Linked DNA regions of Homo sapiens. The protein of the gene in region 1 purifies or fractionates together with the protein of each later gene. This does not show direct contact. Each region holds a gene or a part of one and is shown in the gene's direction. Other genes may lie near its edges. The genes, in order: CAMK2B, CIBAR2, AGPAT5, CAMK2N1, MYO1B, SLMAP and STRN.

Region 1 (3,500 bases):
AAAATGCATTATGTATCAACTTGGTTTTTAAAAAATTATCATATTGGCATATTACACAGATATGTATATTTTATTCATAGAAAAACTTGAATTTATTTAAAATGAAAACATCCTTTTATGTTAGAGAAAGGTGGTGTTGCTAGCTGCCAAACTTTTGGGTGGCTTTTGTCTCCTGGGTTAGAGGGTCACTTGTTGAGGGCTCAGTTCCTGGTGGACATAGTTCTTTTTGTATTGACATAATTATCCAAAAATAACTTAAGTTATGATTCTTTGTTAAGCCAGACAGAAGCTTTTGTTGAATTCTAGAACAGATTGGCAACAACCAGGCAAAGATTTAAGAAGATTTTATGGGAGGAAGCATAATGGCACACTTGTACAGGGTGGAATTTGGGACCCACAGTCCTTGTTTCCTCACTTTGTGAGCAGCAAGAGAAGCCTGGAGGGCAGGAGCTGCTGTCGCCCTTACAATGAAGTACTGCAGGTGTTATGCCTTTTGCTGTAATGCCCTCTGGGTGTCAAGCACATCCCAGTGAGTGCCGTTTCCAGCAAGGAGCTGAGGAGCCTTGATTCTGTCACCCAACACACCCTGAATTCAAGTGCTGAGAACAGTGCCTGGCACACAGTAGGTGCTCCACAGTGACTCAGCAATGGTCTGGGTCACTCAGGCCTTGCACCTGGGACTGCTTCCCAGAGCAGTGGCACACCCACCCTGTAAAAGATGAGGGCCTTATAAGAGGTATTGGGTGGCTCTGCAGGTAGGTCTTGCGGGTATTCTGATGTCCAGTCTGGGTAGACAGTCTTGTCACCCGGTGAAATGCAGTAGCAGGGCTGTCAGCACTTATATGTCTGTCATGGAGCTTGACTCCAAGAGGCTTGCAGCTTTCAGCTAATTTCTTAATGAGGTTGTTCACATGACTTCTTGTTTGTTGAGGTGCTGCCTGATTCTCAGCGTCTGTGAGTTTGATCCAGGCCATTAGTTAGGGGCTTTCTGGGCAAAGGGTAGGAGTCTGGTTAGGAGCAGGCCCTCCCAAAGAAGATGACCATGTGGTGGTTCTCAACCCCAACCACACATGGGAAGCCCCTGAGGAGTGTTCAGGCCCCATCGCATTTAGCCAGACACTAGGGAAATGGGGTATCAGCAGTTTTTAAAAGCTCCCAGGTGATTCCAATGGGCACTGCATACCTAGACTCTGCAGAGGAGTCTGCACCTGAGGCCAGACACTCGCCTAAGCCCACACTCCTTCATATAACCCTTGGTTCTTTCAGAGCCCACCTAGGCATGAATTTGAAGTTTACCTTCATTTTCTCTACATTCACAATGACATTACTACCCCACCGCCCACCCCATCCAAGTTGTCGAGAGCTGCATTGTCCAGAAGAGATAAAATGTGATACAAAGTTGAGCCATATGTGTGATTAAAAATTTTCTAGTACGTAAAGAAAAAAAAGAAACAGGTGAAAGGAACTTTAAAAATATATTTATTTAACTTTATATCCAAAATATCATTCAGAGGCCTGGTGCGGTGGCTCGTGCCTGTAATCCCAGCACTTTGGGAGGCCAAGGTGGGTGGATCACTTGAGCCCAGGAGTTAGAGACCGTGGGCAACATGGCAAAACCCCATCTGTACAAAAATTAAAAAATCATTTCAACATGTAATCAAAACAGAAATTATTAAGCTATTTTGCATTCCTTTTTGTACTACGTCTTGAAATCTGGTGTGTATTTTACCCTTACGGCACATCTCAGTTTGGACCAGGTTCTTATGACTACATGGTGACAGTGACCACAGTATTGGACAACACAGGGCCAGAGCTTCAAAATCACCATGCTTTTTTTTTTTTTTTTCATTTTTCCTGGTTTCTTTTAAGGATAATAGTTACAGTCATAGCTGTCTTAGTCTGTTCCAGATTTCTTTTGCTCTCCTGAAGACTTATTCATTTATTCAGCAAGTCTGGTTGCCTGTACTTACCATGTGCCATAGGTGCTTGGGAAACAGTAGTGAACAAAGCAGTCAAGGATGCCTGCCCTTAGGGAGCTTATATACTGCTGGATAGAGGCAGGCAATAAACATAAATACTAAAAAAATTATATGATAGGGTAGAAGGTGATTAATACCTCTGAGAATAATTAAGAAGACTCAGGAGTGCTAGTTAGGAGGAAGGTTATTATTATAAAAAGGATGGTAAAGCCAAGAAAAAAGAAGACTCCAATTGCTAAAATCAGGAATGACACAGGGGACCTTACTGCCAACCTTACAGAAAAAAAATTATAAGGAAATAACTATGAATAATTATGTGCCCTCAAGTTAGATAACCTGGATGAAATGGACAAATACTTAGAAAGACACAAACTACTGAATCTGGCTCAAGAAGAAATAGAAAATCTGAATAGACCTATAACAAGTAGAGACTGACTTAGTAATTTAAAATTTTCCCACAAAGGAAAGCTTAGGCTCAGATAATTTCACTGGTAAATCCTACCAAACATTTAAAGAAGAATTAATACCAGTCTTTTACAAGCTCCCCCAAAAAGTAGAAGAGGAGGAAATTCTTTCCAATTCATTCTGTGAAGCCAGCAATACCCTAATACCAAAACCAAAGATATCACAAAACTACAGACTGTTATCACTTATGAATGCAGATGAAGCATCCTCAACAAAACACTAGCAAAATAAATCTAGCAACATATAAAAAGGATTATTTATACATTATGAACAAGTAGGATGTATCCCAAGAATGAAAGGTTCATTCAGCATACAAAAATCAATCTATATAATACACCACGTTGATAGAACAAACATTGAAACTATATGAACCATTTCAATAGATGCAGAAAAAGCATTTAAAAAAAAACCAATACCATTTCATGATAAAAACTCAACAAATGACAAGTAGAAAGGAACTTCCTTAACTTGATAAAATACATTTGTGAAAAATCTGCAGCTAACCTCATATTTAATGGTGGAAAACTGAATGTATCTGCTCTTTCCATTTCTAGGCAGCACGGTATAGGAGATTCTAGCCAGGGCAATTAGGCAAGAAAAAGAGATAGAAGGCTCCCAGATTGGAAATAAATAGTTATAGCTACCTCTCTTTTCAGATTACATGCTTTCGTATATAGAAAATCCTAAGGAATCCATTTAAAAAACTATTAGAACTAAAAAATGAATTTAGCAAAGTTGCAAGATGTAAGACCAATATACAAAAATCCATTGTATTTCAATGGACTAGAAGTTCAAAATAACAAAATTAGGAAAAACAATTTACAATAGCATCTAAAAAATAAAACACTTAATACTAAATTTAATAAAAGAAGTACAAGACTTGTACATTGAAAACCACAAACCACTGTTGAGAGAAATTAAAGAAGACCTAAATTAATGGAAAGACATCCCATGTTCATGGATTGGAATATTTAATATTGTTAAATAGTAGTATACTCCAAATTGACCTACATTTTTGCTATGAAAATTCCAGCTGCGTTTTTTGCAAAAATTGAC
Region 2 (2,308 bases), on another chromosome or scaffold:
TCTGTTCTTCAGTCTCTCGCCAGCCAGGTGAGCGTGTGGGTGGGTGAGGGGTTACACCTAAAATGTCGTGCACGGCCTGGAAGGCCCGTGGTAGTAACCCCAGGGATTAGAGGAGGGTGGCTGAGAACTCGAATTTGAAATGGGAGGCTGAGGAGGCAGGGGTGGTGGGAGCATGGAGGGCTGCCCGGGGGTCTGACCAGAACTTTGCCTTGAAGTAGAATGAAGCTGGGCACGGTGGCTCATGCCTATAATCCCAGCACTTTAGGAGGCTGAGGTGGGAGGATCACTTGAGGTCAGGAGTTCGAGACCAGCCTGGCCAAAATGTTGAAACCCCCATCTCTACTAAAAAAAAAAAAAAAAAAAAAAAAGCAAAAATTAGCCGGGTGTGGTGGTGTATGCCTGTAATCCCAGCTACTTGGGAGGCTGAGGCAGGAGAATCGCTTGAGCCCAGGAGGCAGAGGTTGCAGTGAGCCGAGATCGTACCATTGCACTCCAGCCCGGGTTACAGAGCGAGACTCTGTCTCAGGAAAAAAAAAAAAAAAGTAGAATCAATGAAGCCACGTCACCCAGTGTGGTAGGCCACACGGTCCCTGCCGTGGCTGCCATGGGTCCTGAGCACTCCCTGGAGGCACTCTGAGGTATTGCCACTTGAGAAACAGAGGCCCCCAGTCAGGTCCACACCTCCATCCCAGCCCGTGGGCCCGCGGGTTCCAGAATCCAGGGTTCCTCAGAGGTTAGGGAGGTGATTAGGTACATACATTAGATGTTACCTTACAGCCCCAGGAAGGCCTGCCATCAGGTGCATTTATATTTCTGCAGGGAACTCTGCAGGTCCAGCTGAGTAGGGCAAATGAAGACCCTGAACATCCTCATGCCAATCATGGCAGGTTTAGTCTCTGTGAGTGGGTGGTTAAGGGGCAGCCAGCCCACTGTGTGTGTGGGCAGGGTGGGCATCTCATGCTTCCAGGACATTCTCTCTAACGACGTAGGGTAAGTGCAATCCCAAGCCGTTTAAAATAATCCCAGACTGCCTGGAGGCTTTGTTCTTATTTTCTGATTCTTTTTTCTTTGTCTTTGTTGGATTGTGTTAATTCAAAGACCTTGTCTTCAAGCTCTGAATTTCCTTCTTCTACTTGTTCAATTCTGTTGCTGAGACTTTCCAGAGCATTTTGCATTTCTGTGAGTGTATCCAATGTTTCCTGAAGTTTTGATTGTTTTTCTTTATGCTATCTATTTCTTGGTCCGAGCCCACTGCTCCCGGCGGTGTGACCTTGGGAAAGTCTCCTAGCCTCTCTGTGCCTTAGAGTCCTCGCCTGCAGAGTGGCTTAGAACAGTAACCTCCGTGTAGGGCTGTGCTGAGTATCAGATGAACAGATCTATACGAAGCACAGAAAACCCGGCCTGTTGCGCAACAAACACTTGAGACTTGTTGCTGCCATTATCATTACTGATGTTGCTGTCGTTTTATTATTATTATTATTTAGAGTGCTCAGAGCACCATATGGAGCCCAGGAAAAGAAGGGGAGGAGAGTGAGGACAACTCCATGGAGGAGGCCCCCGTGGAGGACCTCAGGGCACTGGGGCAGGGACCCCATAAGAGAGAACTGCCCACAACAGTCAGAAGAACTTAGCTGGCCTTGGATCCTCAGGTGGGCTCTGCTGTGTGCCCTCAGGCAAGCCACGTGTCCTCTGAGCCTCAGTTTCCTCATCTGTACAACAGGGCCAATATCACTCACTTCACAGGTTGCTCTGGGGGATCGCTGTGCCTGGCATATAGTAGGTGTTCAATAAATGCCCTGTGACTCTCAGCTTGATCCCGGCTCTCTCATTCTGCCTTTAGTCTGGGGGCTTGGGTGGGACGTGCCTGCCCCTGTGTTCATGTTGCAAGCACAGTAGATTCCTTTCCTGGGCTGCCTTGACAAAGCACCACTGCCTGGGCAGCTCAAACCACAGAAAATCACTCTCCTGTGTTCTGGAACCCAGAAATCTGCGAGCAAGGGGTCAGTAGGGCTGTTTCTTTTTGGAGGCTCAGAGGGAGCACCCATCCCAGGCCCCCTCCAGCTTCCAGTGGCTCCTGTCCTTGGCACGCCTGGGCTTGTAGCCACATCCCCCGGACCTGGCCTTCCTCTTCATGTGGTGTTCTCCCAGTGTGCACTTGAGCCTGTGTCCAAACCTCCCCCTCCTATAAAGGACGCCCATCATCAGAGGCCCACCTTACTCCAGGATGGCCTCATCTTGACTAATTATATCAGCAAGGACCCCATTTCCAAATAAGGTCACATTCTGAAGTATGGGGGCAGGTAGGACT
Region 3 (3,500 bases), on another chromosome or scaffold:
CCAGGCTACCTGACTCCACCATGTGTGCTCTTCCCTAGGGCACAGTTGTGCTGCTAAAAATACTTTTTAAGCAGTTCTTTGATTATTCAGATGATAGTACTGTAGGAAAATTAAGACAAAAATAATGAAAAATTAAAATCTTTATTTTAGTGTTTTGCACATGTATTATTAAAGCCAGTTTACTCCTGGAAGTGTGTAAGAATACAGGGTATTTTTGATCACCTAAATGCTGCATGTTACTAAGAGCTCGACACTGAAGTCAAGAAGAGCAGTTGCAGAGAGTACTTAGCAAAAACGGGAAGTGTGTGGGGTTGAAGGAGCAAAGACAAGTCTTCCTCGGACGGTGGAGTGTAGAATTCATCATTTCTCAGAACACGTCTTTGAACGCATTTTCAATTTGAGGCCAAAGGTCTCAGCCTCCCACTCGGCATACCTCCCTACCTTAGTCAGCTCTTAAATCTTAGGAATATTTCTTTGTTCTTCAAGGAACTTAAATATGTTAACATTCTTACCTGTCCACAGGGAGCCCCCTACAAAGAAGGGAGTTTCTAGTCTCCGTTCTTTCTTGGAATAAATAATAGCCTCATACCTTGTGCAATCGAGGCTGAAAAAGACTGTCTCCTTTTTTCAAATAAGCAAGTCTTAGAAACTACAGTTGTTTACAGGGCTCATGGCTATTCCACAGTAATAATTTTGGTTCTTTTACCAATTATATAATATGTTAAAATATGGCAAGTATCAGGAAAGCAAGGAGTGGCAATGATTAGAAACCAATGGCCAAGTTAGAGAGGAGGGGCAATTGCTCCCCCAAGTTTGTTGTGGCTGTGTAGCAGTCAGTGACGAGAAGCTGTGTGTCAGGCGACAAGCAAAGTTGAGGATTATCAGGCGCCTGTGAGTGCCCAGCTGTGTGCCAGGTCAGGAGGTGCCATCGTGAGCCAGACCAGCTTCCTCTCGGCCCCTGTGGAGCTCGCAGTCTGGTGGGGAGGCAGCAGTCACCATGGTGACAGGTGACACACTAGGATGGGGCTGGTGGTGGTAGGCATTTGCGGGTCCCTTCAGAGAGGTGAGTATGGACTTAGAGGAGGCTCCAGCTTCCTATTCCTGGGCTGTCTATAGCACTAAAAGTTGTCACATGAAAAATAACATTTGGTACTATTGATTTAACTTAATGACTTATGTAATTGTAGTTGACTTAGAAATTATAACATGCTCTTCTACTTCAGCTTGAAACCCCCAACCACCAGTTTATAATCCTTTTTTTTTAACTTTTGTTTATTTTTCCTAAGGAATCTGTACTTTTTCTTCATTTTACAACTTTTTTTGTCCTGTTACCTTATTTTCATTTTTACTTTATATGACCATGAGTTCTAAAATAGTAAAAAAAAAGAATTATTTTTGTTCTTTGTTAGAATTTCTCTGCAAAGAATGTCCAAAAATTCATATTCACATTGATCGTATCGACAAAAAAGATGTCCCAGAAGAACAAGAACATATGAGAAGATGGCTGCATGAACGTTTCGAAATCAAAGATAAGTGAGTAACAACAGTTCCAGCACTTCCGGAACTTCGGTTCAACTAGATTTCAGTATAGTCAACAATTTGAAACCAATGTAAATGGTTATATTGTCTCAAGAATACATTTTATAAATTCAAATCAAATTTTATGCATGTCTGATCGTGTTTTAAACTTTACTTGTACAAATCAGTCTAAAAGAACTTGTTACAGTGGGCCCATCTACTTGCATTGATAGTATTTCTTGGACAATACTACGTGATAACATAGCAAATTAAATTAAAAACAACAACAAACACACAAAAAAACTTTCCAGTGTCAGATGCCCGGACCTACCTGTCAGGTCACATAAAGTGGTGTTACTGTGTGAGGTCTGGCTGTTGGGCCAGTGTGCGCAGAAAAGCAAGGGAGGGGTAGAGGACTATGCGGACGTGCAGGTGGACATGATGCTGTTATATTTGTTGGAAATAGAAGGGGGCAGTTGACAGCGTTATATCCAAAGTGTCTTCTGTGGTTAATTATATTCAGAAATTTTAGCCAATTGTTTTATTCTCTAAATATGTACTTTCTGCTCAAGAAACTATCATTGTTCTTCTTTTCCTTGTTTTACAGTACAGTGTTTTTAATTAACCCTCCTGGGTTAACTTTACCAGGTGAAAATGATTAAAAGTGTAATAGGTTAACAATGAAACTTTAAGCTTCTATTTTTCATTGACTCTTAACTGTACATGATGTAATGTATTCAGCGAGCCATTCAGGACCACTTTGGCCCATGGAAGAAATTTAAAAGTAAGATCTACATGTATTGACATGAAAATATGTTCTCAGAAAAAAGACTAATGTATTTAATGTCCTACTTATTTTATAAGTATTTAGAATACCTCTGGACATTTTAAAACAATGATTATTGCTAGGGTGTGTGATTTATAAAGCAATAGAAGCGCTTTCCCTTTCTGTTTGTGTTTTAGATTATTATATCGGGTATGTTCTGCTATCATAACTTTACAAATCTTATGTAATATGGGAAAATGAGTTAACTATGCTGTTTTCCTTCTTTTACCTGCCTTTCTAATTCTGTGGGAATAAAGGCGTTTTTGAGACAGCCCAGGTGCAGTGAGCAGTCCATATCCATGGATTCCACATTCATGGATTCCACCAAGCACAGACCAAAAATACTCAGAAAAAAAGGGGGCTGGCTGTGGTGGCTCATGCATGTAATCCCAGCACTTTGGGAGGCTAAGGCAGGCAAATTGCTTGAGCCCAGAAGTTCAAGACAGCCTGGGCAACATGGCAAAACCCTGTCTCTACAGAAAATACAAAAATTAGCCAGGCGTGCACCTGTAGTCCCAGCTACTCAGGAGGCCGAGGTGCGAGGATCACCTGAGCCTGGAAGGTTGAGACTGCAGTGAGCTATCATTGTGCCAACTCCAGCCTGGTAACAGAGTGCCTTTTTTCAAAAAAAAAAAAAAAAAAGGATTTGGGAGGATATGCATATGTTATATTCAAATACATGCCATTTTATTCATATATCAGGGACTTGAGCATCCTTTGATCTTGGTCTCTGCCGGGTATCCTGGGACCAGCCCCCTGTCGATACAGAGGGACCGCTGTCTAAGAACCGCTGGTCCTATCTTTGACTTCTGGCGGAATAGGAGCTCCATGTAAAAAGGAGGAGAAGCTGCAGCGGGTTATTAGCCATTTGTGAGTCAGGTCACTGTAAAACTTTATCAAAAGTTTAAAAGACAAAAAGCATCCTCATAAAATGCCTTAAAACCACCTGTTGAAATATTACATATACAATTCATGTATACTAATCATAGAGCATATTAAAGATATTTTAGAAGACTAGAAACTTCTATTAAACCAAGTTTCTGGATGTTTCCGTATTCATCCTTATTTTCCAGGGACCTGCATAACTTTTCCAGCGTGTAATAGCTACCTGATTGATATTTTTTGAATTGAAATACTGAAGTGACTAAAATCTAAA
Region 4 (4,072 bases), on another chromosome or scaffold:
TCCTCCCCCCATGGATTCTGGCTTCCCGAGGCCAGCCAATCCTTTTACACCGTTTGGAGAGGGGGCTGGACTGACTCCCCCCTCCACCAGATGTTATACCAGGAAAAAACCTTCCCCTTCTGCCTCCAGCTCCCACCCGCCAGAGTTCTAGATAGGAGGGGAGAGCTCCTTTCACTGTTGATGGGACCCCTTGCAGGGCAGCAGGATGAGCCAGGTGAGACTCACCTGGGCCACCTGGATGTGTTTCCTAGCCCTGCCTCCAGCAGCTGGCATGACCTTGGGGTGGTTGCCCCTCCCTGTGGTCAGGCCGGCTCTACTAAGCAAAGACGGTCTCCAGCGGAGGGCAGGTGCTGTTGGCTCCGGCGAGGATAATGAGCGCTCCTCATGCACCTTGCCCCCTCGGAGTTACCATCTGCTTGGCAGATGCGCCTCCCAGGCCTCTGGGGCTGCCCCAGTCTCCCTCCCGGCATCGAGGAGCCCGCTCCTCCTCTCAGAGGCCATAGTCTCTCCACAGGGCGCACGGCTGTTGCTGGAAGGGAGACCCCCGAGGGCAGAGGGCGGCAGACCCGGGACGTCCCCAGCGGAGGCAGCGGACGCCGGGAGCCAGGCATCCCGGGCGAGCCCGGCGTAATGAGGCGCTCCCTTCTCCTGCGGGAGGCGGGGCTGCCCCTTCCCTCTCCCCCTCCCCCTCCTGGAGGCCCTGCGGGAGCCGGAGTCCAGCGCAGTTGGGCGGGGGCGTGGGGGAGTGAGGCCTTCCAGGTCGGACTGAGCCGGGGCGGGAGGAGAGTGTGAGGCCCCAGTGGCTGGGCCCTCAGGGTCTGAATTGGGGAGCAAGTGTGGTGGGGAGGAAGGGCTCCCCGGTTTGCAGATGGCGGGGGAGGCTATGTCCGCGGGTCGCCCTGGAGCCCTCCGATCTTTGCCCCGCAGCATCTGCCCCCCAGGGGGGTCAGCATGCTTCCGCCCTTCCCCGCGTGTGCGTCGTCTGTCCGCTCCCTCTCCAGCTCCCGGAACCCCCACTCCCCCCGAGGTCCCCTCGGGAGGCAAAGCCGGCTGCGGGGCGGGCGCGCACCAGCTCCGGGCCCCGTAAACACCCGTGAGCGGGACGGCGGGGGCTGGGGGCGGGGGCAGGAAGCTAGCGGCAGCCCGGGCCGGCCGGCGCGGCCCCGTGACGTCGCTCCGCTCGCAGGGATCTCTCCCCGAGGCCCGCGGGTCCCCTCCTCCCCGCCTCCTCCCGCCCTCCTCCCCGCGCCTCGCCTCGGCGCCGCGGCCGGCATTTCTCCTCGCAGCTCGCTGCCTCCTCTATCCCTGCCTCCCTCTCCCCCCTCTGTTTTTCTCCCTTCCTTCCCTCTCCGACCCTCTTCCTCTCCCTCCCGATCCTTTCCCTCCTCCTCTCATCTTTCCCCTGTCTCTCCGTTCTAGCTCGTCCCCCACCCCACCTTTTCTTCTTTCTCCTCCTCTCCTTCCTCTCCCCCTCTCCTCTGTCTCCTTCCACCGTCTCCCCTGCCTCCCTGTCTTTCAGTCCCTGTTTTTCAGCCCCGTCTCCCTCTCGGTTTCTCTCCCCCACCCTCCCTCCGGGTTTCCTCCCCGGTGCCCTCCCTCCTCTCTCCCTCCCCTCCCCCTCCGCCCCTCGCAGCCCCGCCGCTCGCAGCTCCCAGTCTGCCTCCCCGAACCGGCGCCGCCGCCCGCACTCGCCGCAGGACCGGCCCGCCCGGCTCCCGGGGTGCGCCCTCCTCGGTCCCGCGCCCTCCGGGCTCGCAGGGACGTCTCCTCCCTCCCGGCTCGCGGCCCCGCCCGGCCCGGCCCCCGCCCAGAGCCCCAGCGCGCCGAGGATGTGAGTCCTGCTCGCCTCTGGCGGAGCAGCAGCCACTCGCGCGCGGAGCCGGAGCGCAGCGCAGCGCAGCCGCGGGCGCTCTCCGGGCCGCTCGCGCGAGTGCCGCGCTCTTGCCCTAGCGGCGTCCCCCGGCCTCTCGCCGGCGCCACCGCCGCAGCAGCCCGCGGGCCGTCCCCGGCCGGCCGCCCCCGGCCCCAGCGCCGCTGACCCTGTCCGCCGCGGGCGGGGACGCGGGCGGAGGAGGCGCCGCGGCGGAGCCCCCGGACGCGACCATGTCGGAGGTGCTGCCCTACGGCGACGAGAAGCTGAGCCCCTACGGCGACGGCGGCGACGTGGGCCAGATCTTCTCCTGCCGCCTGCAGGACACCAACAACTTCTTCGGCGCCGGGCAGAACAAGCGGCCGCCCAAGCTGGGCCAGATCGGCCGGAGCAAGCGGGGTGAGTTCGCGGCCCCCTTGTCTGACACCCCCTTTTTCCCGCGCCGCGGCCTGAACAAGGGTTGCGGAGGTCTCCCACCCGCTGGAGCCCGTTCAGACCTGACGGAATCCCTTCTTGCAGAATTGGGGGATCCCGCACTGCGGGTCCGGCTGAAGCGGGTCGCAGGAACGCGTCCCCCTAAGCCGGATCCCCGGCTGGGTCACCCTGGGGGCGTGGCGGCTTCTAGCAGCAGCTGGGGGTCTCCACCCGCGCGGCAAAGTTTGCTTTTTGATTTGCGCCCCCCACCCCCGCCTTTTGCGCAGTGTAGTCACAGCTGCACTCGCTCCATAACCCTGTGGGGAGGGGGTCCCAGGGACCCCCAGGGGACGGCGTGGGGACCTGCGTGGGGAGGATCCCATTCCTGCGGGGAAGGCTAGGGTGTTCGGGTCGCACGGGCTTTTCATTGTTACTTGGCTTGGGAGGGGGTTTGCCAGGCCTGGGCGATCCGCGCGAGAGCTGGAAAAGCCCCAGAGAGGCGGAGACGCAGAGAGGCTCCGAGAGGAGCTCCAGAGACGCGGGGACAATGAGGGGGACCGACGGCTGCAGAGAGAGACTGAGACGCAGGGATGGAGGGGAGGGGGTACGCGGGAGACCGAGGGTGGCAGAGACCGAGACAAAGCTCCCGAGAGGGGAGCTGAAGCGGGAGAGACAGAGCCGAGGACGCGCGTTTGGGGAGGACGCAGAAGCCGCCGAAACAATAAGGGCGACCGACACCTTAGACAGGGAGAGACAGAGACCTCGATCGGCTGCCGGCCGTCGCGCCGAGGGACGATGGAGGGACTGAGAAAGGCGAGGCTAAGTCGAGACGGTAAGAGAGGCCGAGGTTACGGCATGTGTCCCTGGCAGGCAGCGAAGGGAGGCTCTGACCTCTGCGGCAGCGGGGAGCGCGGGGCGGCCGAGTCAGTCGGCCAGCGGCTGGGAGAGGGCGCGCAGGAGGGGGCGCCCGCCCAGGCCAGGCCCTAACCCCCACCCGCTGCGCGTCGTGGGAACCGGTTTTGGCGTCCCCTCCTGGTTCCGCTCATCTCCGCACCTAGCCTTGCCCACCGGAGCTGCGCTCGGGACTTACCTGGGGTCCCGAGACCCAAAGACTTTGGCTCCCTCTCCTATCCCAGCTCCAGACATTTCTGTCTAAATTAGTGCGCCTGGTGCGGGGAGGACGCGGGCCAGTGCGCGCCCTGGCTGCAGCAGGAGCGGCTGGGTTGGCGCCCTCTGTTTCCTTTTCTCAGAATGGAGCTGGGACGCAGGCTGGAGGATAGAGGGTGGTGGGTGGTTCAGAGGAAAGCAGGGAAGGGACCCCTGGCAGGGACGGAGGATGGAGCTGTTTCACCGCGCAGTGAGCCCTGCTCCCTCGCCCTCTCCTCTCCCGACCTCCCACTCTGGGCATAACGGGAAATGTCAGAGACCTCTGGCTAGGCCCCAGCGCGCTCACCTCTCTTTTCCCCCCTTTTTTTGCAGTTGTTATTGAAGATGATAGGATTGATGACGTGCTGAAAAATATGACCGACAAGGCACCTCCTGGTGTCTAACTCCCCCAAAGACAATGAGTTAAGGGAGAGAATAAGAACGGCGGTAACAGTTATTGGCAAAAAGCATGAAAAGAGAAAGCACTTTGAAATTTATTACTAGCTTGCTACCCACGATGAAATCAACAACCTGTATCTGGTATCAGGCCGGGAGACAGATGAGGCGAGAGGAGGAGGAGGAGGAGGAGAAGGCTCTGGGCTCCTCTGCAAAAATAAAAATAAAAAAATAAATAAAATTTTA
Region 5 (3,500 bases), on another chromosome or scaffold:
TTTCCAGTGTACACCTTCTCTCTCCATCATTGCTGCTTTGCTTTACATTTTATATTAGATCCTGAATTGCTATTTGTGATGTTCAGATTGCAAATATACTAGCTTCCTAACTGATCATTTTTTCCCTTAAAAGTACTTCAGAGTGATTGGTCACTGTTTTATTCATTTTAGACCCACAGTCTAAATGCTTTAAGGAAAAGCTTAATTTTCATAGACATTGGGCCTATGCCAATTTGCATGGCTTGTTATTTTTGTGATCCTCATATTATCTGCTTCTAGTCATAATCGGTAGATCACAGTTTTGAGCTACCCCTGATATAGTGAGCCATCTATGAAAAAGTTCTCGCTTGCCTGAAATTTTCAAAGTGTTGAGAGCTATTCATAAAAATGTATGAACTGCCACGTTGGTCAGGTTCAGGGCTTATTTGCCGTAGTACTCTGCAGGTATTCTGTGACATTCAGGAAGGAAAATAGAGTTAGACTCCTGATGTCAGCTTTGTAAAGGTTCATAGATGTCTCTTGAGTATCTGTAATTACATGATCTCTTAAAAACCTCTTATCCATGTACTGAAATTCATCTTGAATTGTTTATTTTTATCCTGCATTCACACAATTCACACTTTAAAGATAGAACTTGATTATATTGGTATTTTTATTTCAAATTTTCAATTTTTGGAATGGCAGAATGTTGCTATTGAAAAGTGTCTTAAAGGTCACCACTGTAACCCCTTCATTGTGCTTGAGACCTGCTCAGCTCCTAAATTTAACAGGGGACGGATCTGAGAAACTGACTCCAAGTTGTAACCTCTTGCTTAGTTTTCTTTCTAGGGAGATATCCGTCTCTCCAAACCTGTCGAAATCTAAATTTATTACCTCTTACCTAATACTTGGTCCCCTGTGGACTTCACTTCACTGTTTGTGCTAATAGCCTTTTCATCACCATCTTGACTTTGGATTCTAGAGCATCACCTACTTCCCCATTTTCTGTGACCCTTACATTCCTCCTGTCAGTCACTATGTCTGATTTATTGTTCTCCCCTATCTTTTGCCCTTTGCAAATCCTCAAGCCCTCATTCTGGTTCAGACCTTTAAAAGGCTGAGTTACTGGAGTATAGTGTTACCCAAAGTGAGTTGTTCCATAAAAAATTAGTAAGTTGGAAAAAAAAACAAAAAACAAAAAAATACCCTACCCATAAAGTTGGTAAATGTTCCTGTAAAAAGGGTTCCTTGGCCAGGTACATGTTAGAATAGCTGGTTAAGTTTCTTTGCAGAAAGACTTCTCCTGGCCTTCATTTGTGACTGTGTACTGTGAATTCCCAAGAGAAAGATACAGTATTCACTTGTCCCAACTTATGTCACCATTGTACCACGTTTTGGGGGGATCATTTCGTAGATAACACTGCTATAGTCACTTCACTGTAGCTTTTTAGGTTCTGTCACTGCCTGGCTTCCTGTGGGAATGTGCATTCCATGTGAGCCGTACTTGGTTCACTCTCAACTGTGTCTTGTGCTTTTACCTTGTTGTTCTGGATCGTTCCTTCCCCCCAGAAGCCCCTCTCCCCTATCACACTGGCACATCTTTCAGTGCCCAGCTTTGTGCCTGTCTTCTCTGTCAGTTTTCCCAGACTCAGGTTGCGCTTGTTCTTCTGAACTTAACTGTTTCACAACTTAAAAAAAAAAAAGAAAATATTTGAAGCACAATGAAATGTTGAAAGTAACCTTACACATTCATATGGTTAAATTATTGGAATTCCCACAAAATTCCATTTTCCATATTTGCGTCAGTTGACACATCACATGCACATCACATTCTCCTCTGTTTCCCCCCACAGGTTAGCTTGCACATATGTTCAACAAGCTTGTTGCTTGTGGGGCTTTTTTCTTTAATTTTGTGTTACTGAAATTGTGTTGCATTTAAATAGAAATTCAGGGAGAATTGACATCTTTATGGTTTAATGGCTTCCCATCCACAAACCTCATAAGCTTCTTTAATAGTTCTTTTATGTCCTTCAATGAAATTTTTATCATTTTGTATGTAAAACTCTTTCATACCGCTTGTTAGATTTGTGCCAAGGTGCTTCATGGTTTCTGTGGTCATTTTGAATGAATGATTTAGTACATTTCTGGTTAGTGTTGCTGGTGTACAAGAAAGGGATTGATTTTGTATTTGTTTATAAATAGTTCTTGATTGATCAAGTTCACATCTAAACCTGTGTTTGCTGTGGGAGCCTGCAGTTGGGTGGCTTTTCCAATACAGCATAAAATAACTTAGCCTTTATTGAAAATGTCATAATTCACTTTATTTTTATTTATTTATTTATTTTTTGAGACAGAGTTTCGCTCTTGCTGCCCAGGCTGGAGTGCAGTGGCATAATCTTGGCTCACTGCAACCTCCACCTCCCAGGTTCAAGCAATTCTCCTGCCTCAGCCTCCCGAGTAGCTGGGATTACAGGCATGCAACCACCACGCCTGGCTAATTTTGTATTTTTGGCAGAGATGGGGTTTCTCCATGTTGAGACTGATCTCGAACTCCTGACCTCAGGTGATCCACCCACCTTGGCCTCCCAAAGTGCTAGGATTACAGGCGTGAGCCACCGCGCCCGGCCTCTTTTTTTTTTTTAGAGACAAGTCTGGCTCTGTTGCATAGGCTGGAATGCAATGGCATGATCGTAGCTCGGTGCAGCCTCATACTCCTGGACTCAAATGAGCCTCCCACCTCAGCTTCCCAAGTAACTAGGACTATTGGTGTGCGCCTCCATGCCCAACTAATTTTTAAATTTTTTGTAGAGGTGATGTCTCATTGGTCCCAGGCTCCTGGCCTCAATCAGTTCTCCTGCCTTGGTTTCCCAAGTGCTGGGATTACAGGTGTAAGTCACCACACCTGACCTAATTTAAAAATTATATGCAGTACTTTTAGAAGTAAGGAAGGGGTGACTTTTAGTTATTTAATGTGTTCATTTATTAACTCATCAAATGTTTAGGTGCCTAGTATGTTTCAGGCACCGTACTAGGTACTGTGTTTTTGTTTTTGTTTTTGTTTTAGAGACAGGGTCTCTCTTTGTTGCTCAGGCCGGAGTACAGTGGTGTGAACATAGCTCACTGCAGGATCGAACTCCTGGGCACAAGTGATCCTCCTGTCTCCACCTCCCAAGCAGCTAGGACTACAGGCAGCATCTCCACACCCCACTCATTTTTTACATTTTTTTGTGGAGACGGGGTCTTTCTATGTTGCCCAGGCTGGTCTTGAACTCCTGGCCTCAAGTGATCCTCCCTCCTCAGCCTCTTGAAGTGTTAGGATTACAGGTATGAGGCACTACACCCATCCTGTACTGAATCTTTAATGTTGAACAAAACAGATGTGGTTTCTGCTCTCATGAATGTGAAGGGGAAGAGACATTGTGGAAATGGACACGGATAAATATGTATTCGTGGATTAGCATCGATACTGTGAAGGAAAAGGACAGGGGGCTGTGAGAAACAGAAAGGCGGAGAGAGGGAAA
Region 6 (3,500 bases), on another chromosome or scaffold:
GGGTTCAAGTGATTCTTCTGCCTCAGCTTCCCAAGTAGCTGGGATTACAGGCATGAGCCACCATGCCCAGATGCCTGGCTAATTTTTTGTATTTTTAGTAGAGACAGGGTTTCACCATTTGGCCACGCTGGTCATGAACTCCTGACCTCAGGTGATCTGCCTGCCTCGGCCTCCCAAAGTGCTAGGATTACAAGTGTGAGCCACGGTGCCCAGCCTAGAATGGTTATTAATTCCTCTGTTGATTCAAGGCACCACTGAGCAAGCAGATCTACCCATATAGTGGTTACATAGAAAGGATAGTGAGTGAACTCTTGTGATTTGGATGGCCCTATTTGATTTGAGGCTTTGGGGTACCGGTGACATGCTAGTGGTTGACATAGTAGTCTATTTCCAGTTTCACTGAAGTTTACTTACTAGTGGTAGTAGTTGTCTACTTCTAGTCTCACGTTTAATTTAAACTTAGTGCATCTTTTTTTTTTTTTTTGAGATGGAGTCTCGCTCTGTCACTCAGGCTGGAGTGCAATGGTGTGATCTCGGCTCACTGCAACCTCTGCCTCCTGGGTTCAAGCAATTCTCTTGTCTCAGCTTCCTGAGTAGCTGGGATTATAGGCACACACTACCACGCCCAGCTACTGTTTTTTATTTTAGTAGAAACGGGGTTTCACCATGTTGCACAAGCTGGTCTCGAACTCCTGAGCTTAGGCAATCCACCCGCCCCGGCCTCCTAAAGAGTTAGGATTACAGGTGTGAGCCACCGCGCCCGGCCTAGTGCATCTTTTTGAGCACCTGTTCTATCATGATTTGTTTTAGTGAAGGGCATAGTGGTAAAGGGGGAGAAAATGACAAACTGATGAGGATTTGTTATTTCTTCTTTCTAGGAACTTTTACATTGGATAGAGAGGGTGACAGTGCACTTTGAAAATAGTTGAGATAGGTGATATTATGTAAGTTTCAATGGCAAAAGAATAATGACATTTGACTTTAAAATTAGGGGTGGATAGATAAGAAAAGGTGTTTTTTTGGTTATTTTTATTTTTTTTGTGGGGATGAGGATGGAATAAAAAGCAGATAATTTTGAATGAGCTTTGCATTTTCCAAATGCTGAGGAAACTGACTTTGTTGGATTAGAGAGTTCTTTGAAGAGTAGCCAAGGGTGCACATCTATTCTGTGTGATGTTCTTGTTTGTGCCTTGTCTTTGTAATTAATTTTCACACTCTGGAAGACAGGAACGTTTTCCTACTATCTTGTATAAAGTAGTTGTTGAATAAATGAAGCTGACTAGATAGTGTGGTGCCAGGTTGTGAAGTGCCTTGCTTACCAAGCTTAGGATGTGGACCCTTGGGTTATGGAAGGCCTACGAGAGTTCTGAGCAGAGCACTGACATACCAAACCCCTGTTTAAGAAAGAGTGGGCCGGGTGCGGTGGCTCACACCTGTAATCCCAGCACTTTGGGAGGCCGAGATGGGTGGATCACCTGAGGTCAGGAGTTTGAGACCAGCCTGGCCAACATGGTGAAACCCCACCTCTACGAAAAATACAAAAATTAACCAAGTGTGGTGGCATGAACCTGAAATCCCAGCTACTTGTGAGGCTGAGGCAGGATAATCACTTGAACCCAGGAAGCGGAGGTTGCAGTGAGCAGAGATCCCATCTTTGCACTCCAACATGGGCAACAGAGGGAGACTGCATCTCAAAAAAAAAAAGAAAAGAAAAGAAAGAAAGAGTGATACAATAGTGATACAATAGCAGTATGTAGAGTTGCCTGGAGCAAGGAAAAATGGGTAACAGCTTAAATAACACTTTTGTACTAACTATATACTGGGCCCTATTCTAAATGCTTTACTTGTTAACTTATTTAATCTTCAAGTAACTCTTTGAGGTGCTTGTTTTTTCTGCATTGACCTGTGAGGAAATTGAGGCACAGAGAGATCTTGGTCAAGTTCACCTAGCTATTAAATGGTAGAATTGAGATTTAAACTCAAGCTCATAACCACTGTGCTATTCTAAAGGCTTTATAACACTTTAGATATGATGTGATTTTGTGAGGGCATAGACCAGGTTAACAGTAGGAATGAAAATGATTAAATGCCAGAAAATGAAAAAAGATAAGAGTATTAAATTAACTTGCACATTAGGACTTCGGCAAAGCGCAAGGTCCTGTGTGAACTGAAGACTTTAGGGAAAGTTTAATGGATGAAACAGTTTCATGGATGAAATCCAATTTAAACTAGACCTTAGGACTTTTAAAAAGAGGAAGAATGGCCAGGAACAGTGGCAAATGCCTGTAATATCAGCTACTTGGGAGGCTGAGTCTGGAAGATTGCTTGAGGCCAGGAGTTTGAGGCTGTAGTATGCCAAAATTGCACCTGTGAAAATCCACTGCACTGCAGCCTTTGCATCATAGCAATAATTTGTCTCTAAAAAACAAAAAGTTCAAAAACTTGTATTTGCCAGGGGTGCATCAGGTCTGTAGCCCCACCTATTTGGGAGGATGAAACAGGAGGATCACTTAGGCCAGGAGTTCAAGGCTATAGTGCACTATGATTGCTCTAGCCTGGGTGACATAGTGAGACCCATCTTAAAAAAAAATATGGGGTTAAGGGATAGATTGTAGTTAGGGTCAGTCAGGGAAAGGAGTTTTGGGTGGGAGGAAGAAGCAGGGATGATACGGCATGTTCCAAGGACATTGTAAGGAAGACATTGTGAAGAGCCTGCTGAATTTGACAACCAAGATTGTTTCTTCTTTTTTCCTCCACACATCTAAACATGACCACAAAGATCCTAGCCTCAGCTTTTGGGAGAATGGCAGGTCATACATTCTTTTACTTTTTATTTGTTTGTATGTTTGTTTTAACAGATACTTAAGTTTTTTGTTGACAGAAGTATAAAGATCATTAAGGGGTGCTGGTGTTTGTGAGAAAGTCTTTTACTTGACAAGTTGTATTTAAGACACATAATGTGAACATGTATAGGAAGCCAGATTATATCTTTAAAGCACATGTTCATTTCCCTCTATATTATTTTTCATAATAGTGGGAAATTGATAAAATATTTTATCTGTGATTTCAAATTGTTAAAAATATCGACAGTGTATATACTTAAAGCATTTTTTTTCCCACTTAGTTCTTTGACATTACTCCTTAGGTTAAATTCACTCTTTGCCCTTTTAGGCTTCTGTCTGATTTTCTTTCTTTTTTTTTTTTTTTTGAGACGGAGTCTTGCTCTGTTGCCCAGGCTGGAATACAGTGGCGCGATCTCGGCTCATTGTAAGCTCCGCCTCCCGGGTTCACGCCATTCTCCTGTCTCAGCCTCCTGAGTAGCTGGGACTACAGGCGCCTACCACCACACCCGGCTAATTTTTTTTTTTTTTTTTTTTTTTTGTATTTTTAGTAGAGACAGGGTTTCACCGTGTTAGCCAGGATGGTCTCGATTTCCTGACCTCGTGATCCGCCTGCCTCAGCCTCCCAAAGTGCTGGGATTACAGGCGTGAGCCACCACA
Region 7 (3,500 bases), on another chromosome or scaffold:
ATTTCTATAGTGGTTTATGTCTCTCTTACTCTTTGTCCCAAATGACAGAGACCAATCTAGAAATTGGAAATAAATTATTAACGTCCAACTTTCCACCAAAAAACATATAAATAGGCTCTTAGATTTTAAAAATATTAAATCTATAGATATTTTAACCAATTAAAACAATTTCTACATATTCCATTCCCCACATTTTCCATCGTCATAACAATGATGCTTCTCATGATACGTACATCTACTCCTTGAAAAAGTATTCTGGTGGTGGTGTGGCTAATGATTGACAAATATTTCTGTAAAATTTCTGCCTGTTTGCCTCTAGAATTCTGCATTATACAGGCAAATTTTCTTTAAAGCTAGAGACTTGTGCTAAATTTGCCTGATTTTCATACAGATATGCTGTAGTAATACAGCTACCTTTTCATTTCATCTTTGTGCTTTGGTTAACAAGCAGGCTCAAGAGACTGCTTTGTGTAATTAAATGAATTGACCTAAACATGAGCTGTCAGGTGAATACTTAATATTTCCATGCAGATACAGAATTCCATATTGTGTTCAGTAAATTTCTTTTGGTTCTTCACAGTGAAGAAAGAATGTTTCTAACCTAACATTTGTAGAAGGATACTGGAAAATTCCTTCCAGGAAGGAAGGAAGGAAGATGCCATTACTTGGTGTATTTATGATGGATGACCACAAAGCTATTGTTCTACCAGTTATTAATTACCTTCTAAGATCTTCAGTTACTGCTTTATTAATGTCACTGAAATTCTAAAAACCAGGACATTCTTCCCCCGTTCATTTTATGCTTCATGGTTGAAATTTTTCTGTCAGTGAGTGGAAAATAACCATGAGATACATAGACTGTAGCGCAAATGGAACTGTTGAAAGTTCCTTAGAAAGCCAGTGCTGTGGCATTGGAGACTACGGAGAGAGTCTTCTCTACCAGCACTGCATGATCTCAGCCTAGAAATGAGCCAAAGCTGTCTTCCAACCAGAGTAGCATATACATGTGTCTGACTTTTCCCCTAGCCTGTTGAACATTCAATGAAAATTCACAGAATGAACAAATTCAATGTTTAAACAGCCATTGAAATGCTTTCATAGTGCTTCATTTGTAAATATTTTGTTTGAAATGTATTGGAATAGTATGAAAATTAGCGGGAGGTTTGGATCCCTGCCTTATTTTCATATGCTGTGGATACATCTCTGGGAGCTTGCAGCACCCTTCTCAAAACTCAACTGTCATATGGAGCTCATTTGCTACTCAAACCATAGACAGATTATTTAACAAAAGTGATATAATGACCTTCAGTATTTTTCTATTGAACAAGTTTAACAACTTTTGCCATTAAACAAATACTTAGTTATGCAAAATATTTCGCTTTTATAATCATTTTAGTTATGACTAAAACGGGGGAAATTGAGCTGCATCACTGATGATGAACTTTGTGAGAAATTTTTTTTTTAATCTGACTTTCATTCCTTCAGTATTCTTGCTATAAATTTCTTTTGGAGATAATGATGAAGATTTATTTGAAAATGTCTAAAATGTATGTATATTTTATAAATATATATTATATATATTGTAAGAATATATATAATATATAAACTATATATATATATATATATATATATATATATATATATATATAAACCATAGGTGCATTTTACTGTTTTGTATTTTCATTTTTGGAGGTAGTATACACAGCAGATAATGATGAGTATGATGAGTGTTGTGCTGTTTGCTTTTGCAGTATAATATATAGTTCTAAGTGTTTAAATTACTGTATATACAATATTCATTATAGGCTAGCATGCTTGTTTTAAAGACTGTCATTCTAGTGTATTAAAATCTGAATGTAAGAAAACCTGGCTATTCAAATGTGAATTGAAAAATATTTTATTCTCAGTACTGAACTATTTCCATTGAACATTCAGACTTTTTAACAAAAACAAATATCATCAAGAAGGCAATAGCTAGAAAATGAGAGGTGCCTTTAAAAAAAAAAATGCAGCCTTACAGTGAGGATGAAGATTGAGTTTGGGGAGGGGGTGGGAGGGGGGGCACAGAGAGAGAGAGAGAGTTAGTGTGTGTGTGTGTGTGTGTGTGTGTGTGTGTGTGTGCATGCATGCGTGTGTGTGTGTGTGTGTGTGTTTACCAATCTGTGAAGGTCCTGATTTGTGACCATCAATGTCTTTTTAATGTATCTGCTCAACTTCTAGGACTTCAGGGGACATTTCATGCGCTTTGTGCTCTTCTGAGCACCATATATACTTTCCAAGAATTTTGAATGTGAATTCCTAGAAATTTCAGTAGAGAAAACAATAGCTATTCTTTAATTATAGTAAAGTTCAGGTAGAAGGAGAAATTATTTGTTCACCAAAATTATGGGATCTCATTAATGTTGGCTAAGTAAATGTAATTTTTTAAAGGCTCACTTTTTAATACTTCATATATTTCCCTCTTACAAAACAGCATGTCATGAAGTTCTTATGTGGTAAAGATTCAACTAGTAAATATTTTTAGGTTAAATACCTGAACTAGTTAAAATTCCACCTAAGAATAGTCTTAAAATATTTAAAAAGCATCTCTCATATCTACCTCTTTGTCATTGCTGCCATTTTAACTGAAGCAAATCTTTATGACATCTGAAATGATGGTTGGATGCAATTAAAAAAAAATCTATGTTGGTGCTTTTCTCAGGCTTTGTCATTTAAGTTATATTGTATTAAGATGTCACAAATCAGACTGAAAGGCTTAGAATTAATTTTGTTTTTCTTTGAAAGAATTGCTTAAAATTAACCATCAATGTTTTTAGCGAGTGGAGATAATGAATCTTTGGTTGGTGTCTGTCTGTGTGATGTTTTCAACCAATAGCCAAATAATTATTGAACTTACATGAAAAAGAGTGCTAAGTATAATTTTATTTAGATTACTTTATTCTTTGAAAGTGACTACAAGGCTATTAAGTACATAATCATTCATTTTATTTACTCAGAAGTTGCCTCTCCATTACTGTTAACTTGTTTAGTAATTTATATAATTGCAGTACTTTTAAGTGTTGGACACTGGGATTCAGGTTGTATACAAAGTAGTAGCTGACGAAAAATATGTATATTTTTGTGAAATGTATCAAGCCCTAAAGTTCATTTTAGAGAAAGGCCCAGAAAAACGTATCTGTGTTTAAAAACAAAGGACAGGTCATTCGTCAATTTGAATCATTTTTACTTTTGCCACTACAAACTTTTTAATTGGCAATATCCATCATCCAACTGGATCTTCATGTCAGTGTCAGGGATGCCAGGTTGACAAAGTATTTAACAGATCCTTTCAGTTTTTGTTTTGTTTTTTTAATTCTAAAAAAAACAAATGTTAGGCCAAACAGATCCCTAGATCCCACTCATTGATTCTGGCGGTATTCCTAAAGTGGTGCTTAGGGGGTCAGAATTTTCTGGATCTTTGCTAATCCAAGCTTTAGATTTAATTTAACCAGGACCACATG

What was found.
Region 2: the proteins of CAMK2B (region 1) and CIBAR2 purify together in Homo sapiens (affinity purification with mass spectrometry, with the first as the bait; one large-scale study listed by BioGRID). This does not show direct contact.
Region 3: the proteins of CAMK2B (region 1) and AGPAT5 purify together in Homo sapiens (affinity purification with mass spectrometry, with the first as the bait; one large-scale study listed by BioGRID). This does not show direct contact.
Region 4: the proteins of CAMK2B (region 1) and CAMK2N1 purify together in Homo sapiens (affinity purification with mass spectrometry, with the first as the bait; one large-scale study listed by BioGRID). This does not show direct contact.
Region 5: the proteins of CAMK2B (region 1) and MYO1B purify together in Homo sapiens (affinity purification with mass spectrometry, with the first as the bait; one large-scale study listed by BioGRID). This does not show direct contact.
Region 6: the proteins of CAMK2B (region 1) and SLMAP purify together in Homo sapiens (affinity purification with mass spectrometry; one large-scale study listed by BioGRID and IntAct). This does not show direct contact.
Region 7: the proteins of CAMK2B (region 1) and STRN purify together in Homo sapiens (affinity purification with mass spectrometry; 2 studies listed by BioGRID and IntAct, with this or other methods). This does not show direct contact.

What each region holds. Positions count from the first base shown.
Region 1 is NC_000007.14:44,315,595-44,319,094, reverse strand, and holds part of CAMK2B (calcium/calmodulin-dependent protein kinase type II subunit beta), read left to right. Parts: intron 1-3,500. UniProt on the Homo sapiens protein: Calcium/calmodulin-dependent protein kinase that functions autonomously after Ca(2+)/calmodulin-binding and autophosphorylation, and is involved in dendritic spine and synapse formation, neuronal plasticity and regulation of sarcoplasmic reticulum Ca(2+) transport in skeletal muscle.
Region 2 is NC_000016.10:85,097,858-85,100,165, reverse strand, and holds the end of CIBAR2 (CBY1-interacting BAR domain-containing protein 2), read left to right. Parts: coding exon 1-27; intron 28-819; coding exon 820-981; 3' UTR 982-1,484; coding exon of another isoform or gene 1,485-1,631; 3' UTR 1,632-1,808; downstream 1,809-2,308. UniProt on the Homo sapiens protein: May play a role in ciliogenesis. In cooperation with CBY1 may facilitate ciliogenesis likely by the recruitment and fusion of endosomal vesicles at distal appendages during early stages of ciliogenesis.
Region 3 is NC_000008.11:6,753,642-6,757,141, forward strand, and holds part of AGPAT5 (1-acyl-sn-glycerol-3-phosphate acyltransferase epsilon), read left to right. Parts: intron 1-1,409; coding exon 1,410-1,533; intron 1,534-3,500. UniProt on the Homo sapiens protein: Converts 1-acyl-sn-glycerol-3-phosphate (lysophosphatidic acid or LPA) into 1,2-diacyl-sn-glycerol-3-phosphate (phosphatidic acid or PA) by incorporating an acyl moiety at the sn-2 position of the glycerol backbone.
Region 4 is NC_000001.11:20,483,411-20,487,482, reverse strand, and holds the start of CAMK2N1 (calcium/calmodulin-dependent protein kinase II inhibitor 1), read left to right. Parts: upstream 1-1,272; 5' UTR 1,273-2,103; coding exon 2,104-2,269; intron 2,270-3,763; coding exon 3,764-3,834; 3' UTR 3,835-4,072. UniProt on the Homo sapiens protein: Potent and specific inhibitor of CaM-kinase II (CAMK2). Plays a role in the maintenance of long-term retrieval-induced memory in response to contextual fear.
Region 5 is NC_000002.12:191,251,904-191,255,403, forward strand, and holds part of MYO1B (unconventional myosin-Ib), read left to right. Parts: intron 1-3,500. UniProt on the Homo sapiens protein: Motor protein that may participate in process critical to neuronal development and function such as cell migration, neurite outgrowth and vesicular transport.
Region 6 is NC_000003.12:57,762,809-57,766,308, forward strand, and holds part of SLMAP (sarcolemmal membrane-associated protein), read left to right. Parts: intron 1-3,500. UniProt on the Homo sapiens protein: Associates with the striatin-interacting phosphatase and kinase (STRIPAK) core complex, forming the extended (SIKE1:SLMAP)STRIPAK complex.
Region 7 is NC_000002.12:36,844,537-36,848,036, reverse strand, and holds part of STRN (striatin), read left to right. Parts: 3' UTR 1-3,500. UniProt on the Homo sapiens protein: Calmodulin-binding scaffolding protein which is the center of the striatin-interacting phosphatase and kinase (STRIPAK) complexes.